2 linked regions of the Homo sapiens genome follow. The protein of the gene in region 1 purifies or fractionates together with the protein of each later gene. This does not show direct contact. Each region holds a gene or a part of one and is shown on either strand. Other genes may lie near its edges.

Evidence for each region. Proteins that work in one complex are often made in the same cells at the same time.
Region 2: the proteins of TRIM35 (region 1) and MKS1 purify together in Homo sapiens (affinity purification with mass spectrometry; 2 studies listed by BioGRID and IntAct, with this or other methods). This does not show direct contact.

What each region holds. Positions count from the first base shown.
Region 1 is NC_000008.11:27,297,773-27,301,272, forward strand, and holds part of TRIM35 (E3 ubiquitin-protein ligase TRIM35), read right to left. Parts: intron 788-3,500; coding exon 692-787; intron 1-691. UniProt on the Homo sapiens protein: E3 ubiquitin-protein ligase that participates in multiple biological processes including cell death, glucose metabolism, and in particular, the innate immune response.
Region 2 is NC_000017.11:58,212,756-58,216,255, forward strand, and holds part of MKS1 (tectonic-like complex member MKS1), read right to left. Parts: intron 3,489-3,500; coding exon 3,333-3,488; intron 2,144-3,332; exon of another isoform or gene 2,084-2,143; coding exon 1,986-2,083; intron 1,633-1,985; coding exon 1,504-1,632; intron 1,115-1,503; coding exon 1,010-1,114; intron 336-1,009; coding exon 227-335; intron 1-226. UniProt on the Homo sapiens protein: Component of the tectonic-like complex, a complex localized at the transition zone of primary cilia and acting as a barrier that prevents diffusion of transmembrane proteins between the cilia and plasma membranes.

The DNA.
Region 1 (3,500 bases):
GAAGACTTAGTTTGCTTAAGGGACAGAAAGAAGGTGAGGCAGAGAAGTAAATGAGGTTGAGGATAGGCAGGGTCAGGAGATGGCCTTGGAGGCCATGGTAAGGAATCTGGGTGGTACTGAGGGTGACTGGAAGCCACTGGCAGTTTTAAGCAGAGGAGGGGCACGGCTGGTGTTTTTTTCTAAACGATCACCCCAGTCCATGGAAAGGAGAATGCACAAGAATGAAAGCATGAGGCCCTAGGCAGGAGGCCCAGTGAGAGATGATGATGACCTGGACCAAAAGGTGGAGGGTTTTACAGAAATAACATACTTTGGAGATAGGGGAATAGGATTGCTGATGGAGTGGATGTGGGAACTGAAAGAAAACAAGAAAGTACATGAGTCCCAGGTCATCATTGAACACACAGGTGGCAGTGATATGATGCATGTGCCATAGTGCAGATGGTGTTGGTAGCTTTTTAAGTCACTCCTGTGGCTGCTGGCATGACCACGCCTGGGTCTTTAGAGGGGCCAAGGCAGAGAAGCCACAGTCAGCATCCAGGACGTGGCTGCACAGGACCATCAGAGGTAAGGCAGCCGACCTCTACCCAGCGGGTTATGTGAGCCAAAGCCACGGCTGACACATCTTCACTCCTCCCCAGACTGCCCTGAGTGGACCCAATCTTCCCACTTGGCCCCATCGTTCGCTCACCTGATTGTGCTTGGCGATGGCCTCATAGGAGCGCCGCATGGCCCAGAAGGCCTTGGCCTTCTCCCGCAGTGCATGCTCCATGTTCCTGCACTTGGCCTGACATGGGAATGAGAGAGAGGGAGGAAGACAGGTTAGGGCTGGAGGCTGGGCAGAGAGGGCAGACACATCACATTTACAACTGGGACTCCACTTCAACACAAGTGTAACTCAACTGCATTTGCCTAACCCCATCCATGCCAAGTGCTCTGGGCACAAATGGTAAGTAAGGTCCTGATCCTGAATCAGACATCCATGGGATAAAGAGCCCTCAGACATCCTGTAGCCCAGCCTGGTACAGACTGGGAGATGGGGCTGAGAAGAAGCAAGCTGCTCTCTCTCATGTTGGTCACAGCACAGGCCAGAAGAGTGTCCCATGTGGGCCAAAAGCTGGTTCATGCTGGGTCTGAATCCCTGAGCTGTGTGGACAACTGCAGACAGTGTGGTCATAGGTTCCCTCTGCAGTTTCCTAAACTGAATGGGTCTGCAATCTCTAATGTGAGGTGACTGACAATGGGGGTGGAGCCAGTCATTTCCCACGGGGTTCAGTTACCTCCCATGAGGCCTCACCTCAACATGCCCAACATGCCCCTCCATACCCCTCCTGCATCCTGACATTCTAACACTGCTTGTATCGCACGGAATACTTTAATCAGCAGGCACAAATACTTTTGGTTTAGTAGTTTTTGTTTCTTAAACTTTAATGATTGTTTCTGATGTCCTTGGACAACTTGAAGAACCACTAGAGTGTTTTAGGTTGGATTCCTGCCTCTTGTATCTTAGGCCTATCATTTTTTCTCCCTCATTATCCTTTTCGATCTACATTCTCAGAAAGCTTCTCAAGTTTTTTCTTAAGAAAAATAATTCAAATAATTATAAATGGTTATCATTTATTCAGTACTTACTCTGTGCCAGGGACAACACCAATTACTTGAGAAATTATGTCATTTAATCATTACTTCTCCCTAGTAGATAAGTAATATTATTGGCCCCATTTATAGATGAGAAAGTGAGGCACAGAAGGGAAATGACCAGCCCAAGGGCACACAGCTAGTATGTGGAAGGACGTGAACCTGGACAGCTATGGAGGCAGCTGCTGAGACAGCACCCAGTGATCCCTCCCTCCTGTGAGATGAGAGTGTTTTAAGCTGCTAAATGTCGGGGTGACTGGATATGCAGCAATAAATTATACAGATGTGTCGCCCAAAGCCTCATTCCCATCTGGACCTGATTTAGATGACAAATCTGGACTTTGGGCTGATGCTGTAAAGGGATGAGATGTTTGGAGAGCTTGGGAGAGGGCCAGTGCATTTTGCATGTGGGAGGGACATGACTCCTTATGGGGCAAAGGACAGATTCAGGCAGGCAGCCTCTAAAGTGGCCCCAGTGACCCTCACCTCCTGATACTCATGCTCTTGTGAAATCCCCTCCTCTGTGGGTGACTTGTTTCTAACCAAAAGAATGTGGCAAGTGATACTAAGTCACCTCTGAGGTTAGGCGACAAAGGCTGTGTACACCCTGCCTTCCTCTCTCTAGCTTGCTCACTGGGATGGTAGCCAGCTGCCCATGTGGTAATTTGCCCTGGGAGTGACTGCTGGGGCAAGAAACTGAGAGTGGCTTCTGACCTACAGCCAGTGAGGGACTCAGGCTCTCAGGCTAACAGCCCGTGAAGACCTGAATCCTGCCAACAACTACAAATGTGAGTGTAAATAAGGATCCTGCCCTAGCTGAGCCTTCAGATGAGACCACAGCTCCATACCTACAGCCCCTCATGACAGACCTTGAGGCAGAGGCACCCAGAGCTAAGGCAGGCCCAATTCCTGACCCACAGAAACTCAAAGATAATAAATGTTTGTTTTAAGGCACTAAGTTTTGGGCAATTTGCTAGGAAATAGAGAACTAGCCCATTGGTTAGAACTAGCCCACAGAACCCTGACTGCAGCCCCTCATGAGACACCTTGAGGCAGAGGCACCCAGAGCTAAGGCAGGCCCAATTCCTGACCCAAAGAAACTCAAAGATAATTAATGTTTGTTTTAAGGCACTAAGTTTTGGGGCAATTTGCTAGGAAATAGAGAACTAGCCCATTTGTCCCACTCAGTAGCCCATTCCTTTAAGTCTTTCACTACAGAAAACAAAATGGTTACTGATTTCATTTTCTGCAGTTCTGTTTTATTTTCAACTCATTTTGATCTTTTAATCTTAAGTGACAATATTTAAGATTTTTAAACTTTGTTTTCTGTAGTATATCATCTCTAATTTGCATGAGTGCCCCCACAAAACCACTGAAATGTCATTCCAATGTTTTATTTTATAGAATGAGATTTTTGATACAAAATCATGTAATACAGTTCAAAAGGAAAATTTAGTGATTTGCCAAATTAGTTAAGTGACAGGAGTGAAGCAGCTGTCCATACGCATTACCCAAAGGTGTGCAGGCCCCAAAACAACACAGTTCAGCCCCTGCCCTTCAACCCTGGCCCTTAGGAATTTATGGGACAATAAGGATGGGAAGGGGATAGTCCCTTGATCTTCTCAAACTTTTCAATCACTTGGAGAGTTCTGGTTTCCTTCAGAAAAGACCAATCCTAAAATGGCCCTTCTCTGAGATGTCAGCTGATGAGACTAACCAACAATTATATTACTATTGCTAGCAAGCAGTTACTATTAAGCATGTACTAGACACAAGGCACTAAATTATGCACTTTACAAACATTCTATTTAATTCAATTATTTAATTCGAATTCTCCCTATAAGGTTAAGCACTGTGAGTCC
Region 2 (3,500 bases), on another chromosome or scaffold:
AAGTACCTAGCACAGAACATGGTAAATGCTCAAATAAATGGTTATTGTTATTATTATAATATGATCAAAAACTTCTGTCTGATATGTCAGCAATGCTGCCTAAGTCAGAAGGGGCCATGAAGGGCAAGGCTTTTCCCGAGCAACTGCTGACATCAAGTTCAGAAATGGTCTCAGCTCCAGGCACTGAGGCTCATCCCTTGGATACTTGGAATGAACTTGCGCTTACATCCTTGAACACTCGCCGTTCCCGCTCCTCCTCCTCCGGCTGTGCGTGGGGGGAAACATTGTCGATCGTATATTTCCACAGCTCCTGCTTCTCCCCCTCCGTCTCAATCCTGTAAGGTCAAAACCACAGAAAGGAGCAACTCTAATAATGAGAGATGGGCCCTGGGATAGCTCCCAGCCCAGGGATGAGCGATCAGGGGCCATACACCTCACTAAAGTATATGATGATAAAAGTGGCTGTATTGACGACCAGGAGAGAGAAACAAAAGGGTAAAGCAGAGAGGGCACCAGACTAGACTCAGAAAGTATAGGTTCTGGGCCCATTTCTGGCTTGAAGTTACAGTCAAACTGTAAGGCACAACATTCCTGCCACCCAGTTCTCTCACCTGAAAAATGGACAGGTTGGGCCAGATAATTTCTAATTTACATTTCTGTCATTTCCAAGATACAGAGATGAGGAACAGTCAGCCCACAGGAAAAGCCTGGCTGAGTTCACCCCACTCTGTTCTGGTCAGGTCCTACATTCAGCAGCACAGAGAATCACTGTCATTTAACTGTACCACTGAAGTGATCCCTTTCAAATTGGTGCAGTTGCACATTTTCTGAGAAAGGAGTCCCTGGTTTTCTAAGGCCCTATGACTTGGAACAGAATACGAACCATTGCCTGGGAATGTAAAAGTTAGAACAGATGAAGGACTTTCTGACAGTCTAGTTGACTAGGGACAAAAAGTGCAACCAAGGGAAGGAATGCCAGTCTCCACTACCCCTTTCTTCCTCTCCTCACCTGTAGGGTCCTTTGAGGCCCGTGAAGTCAGGCTTTACTGTGATCACACCATTGCTATCCACCTTCAGAGTACACAGGACATGTTCATACTTCTTATAGCCAAGCCTAGAAATCAGGAAAACACCAAGGTTGAGGTCAATGGTCCTTCAGGGAAACAAGAAGAGATACTGAGCCCACTGCAGGGGAGAGAACAGAGGCTATAGGGAGAGCTGTCATGGTAAAACTTTCTTCCAAGTACAACTAAGAAAAAAAAGGAAGAAAAAGTCCCTTCCTCTCCTATAACCCAGGATGATAACAGGAAGGGGATAGCTGGTGAGAGGAGAAGAAGATGAGGATCTGAGTTGGCAGTGAGAAGCTTCACTCATAACTAAGAAGAGAAGGAAGAAAAAGTCCCTCCCTCCCCTATAACCTAGGATGATAATAACAGGAAGGGGAGAGCTGGTGAGAGGAGAAAAGGATGAGGCTCTAAGCTGGCAGTGAGAAGCGCCACTCACTTTTTATAGGGCCCCAGGTCTGCCATGATGTGCATTGTCTGAAGAGGGGTGTTAATGACGTGGTTGTTCCTGACAAACTCTTCTGAGGGCTCCCAGGTGACGATGCGTGACTTGAGGATGCCGCCCTCCCTGGGAGACACCACAGAAAGGTCACTTCCCTGGCACACCCCAATGGAGCACCCCAGTGGAGAGCCACTTCAGAATGGGAAGTTTGAGCTAGTGGACATACTGTTTTGTTTTGTTTTTTAAGAGCCAAAATATTTGACAAACAGAAATGACATCCCTTCCCTCTCTCTGAGGCACTTTGGAAAAATGTCCACATGAAGAGTGAGGAAGATATTTTATATTTTTATATTTATTTTTTAAATTAATTACAAAGTAATACTTGAATACTATATATAACCACTGATAAAAATGCAAAACTACCCAACTTTAGGAAATAAAAAGTAAAAGCTTGTCCCCCATCCCATGCCCGCACTCACATCCCTCGCCTGTCCTGCCGGCGACGCCTGACATTTGCCATTCGCTCGACCAAGAATGAAGGCACCTCGCTGGCTGCAGTGGTCATTCTCTGACAGTGCTGGGAAAAGCAAGCAGCCCTGTGTACGCCATCTGGTCAGGGCCACATGGAGCCAAGTACCTGAAGGGAAGTCTTCCTCCTGAAACCTCATCCAGGACCTGAACCCCACAGGTTCCGCCACCTCACAATTATACATGCTAACGGAGGGAGCAGTAGCCAAACAACCCAAAGAAGATTTCTACCACATCATGGTTTGCCTTTGGATTTTAAAAAGGAGTTATTTATGTTAATATTAAAATCAGTCTGCATTCTCTGAGCACAAACCAACAAAAAGTTGGGTTAGTGTGCTTGGTAGATGTTGAAGTTAACAAGGTGGTTAGAAAATGCCAAATGGGATACAAGCATTTTGTGGGAAATCCTCACATGGTAACTGAGCACTAACTGCATTTTCATTTGCTTTTCCAAAACAGACAACCCAAATTTTATTTAATTTATATATTTTTTTAAGAGACAGGGTCTCACCCAGGCTGCAGTGCAGTGGTGCTATCATAGCTCACTGCAACCTTGAACTCCTTGGCTCAAGTGATCCTCCCGCCTCAGCTTCCCACGTAGCCGGGACTACAGGTACATGCCACCATGCCCAGCTAATGTTATCAATCCACAGCTCTAATAATGAAAGCACGTCAATCTTTCAAAAACATTTATTGAATACCTGTTCCTTGCAGAGACCTACAGAGTCATAGACAAAAATAAAAAAAATAGGCTCTACCCTCGAGGAGCTTAAAATCTTACTGAGAAGACAGAAGCAACTGAAATGCAGTGACTGAAGAAAATGTAAAACAAGGTCACAAGGGTATTTTTGTCATAGGCAAATTGAGGACATAAGCCATTTTCCATAGCTATACTGAATTCCTCTTCAAACCCATATACTCAGAGTTTGGGCTGAATCCCCTGATGAATTTTATCTATATTGTTCCAGACTCCACTACCTGTCTTTTTTCATGATGCATGGAGGAAGTCAAGCCCAGTGGTTACTTCTCCCAGTATGCACTCTGCAAGCATATAATCAGAGATACTGGCAGCTCCCCCAGGCCCTCTAGCAGGCAGAGAAGGGAGCAGCAGCCTCACCACCTGTAGACTGTGCCCATTCTATTCCAGGCTGGCTGCCAGCAGCAGCAGCTCACAGCAGTTCCTAGACAGGCTACTTGTCTCCCCTTACTAGGCTCTGACATAACACACAGAACTCAGTGAGGCAAAAAAGCTAGAGGAAGCAAAGATGGAAGCTATGAGACCCTAGAAAGAACAATACCTCCTCCAAATTGGTGTATCTATCAGAGTCAGTGTAGGTAAAGATTCGTCGGTTTTTCTTGCCACCCGAATTCTCCAGCTTCAGGATCTCCTGACGGTACTGATAATCCAAAGGACTCTGACAGGCTGTTTCATTTTGGTACAGATCTACTTCAAACTGAGGTTACCA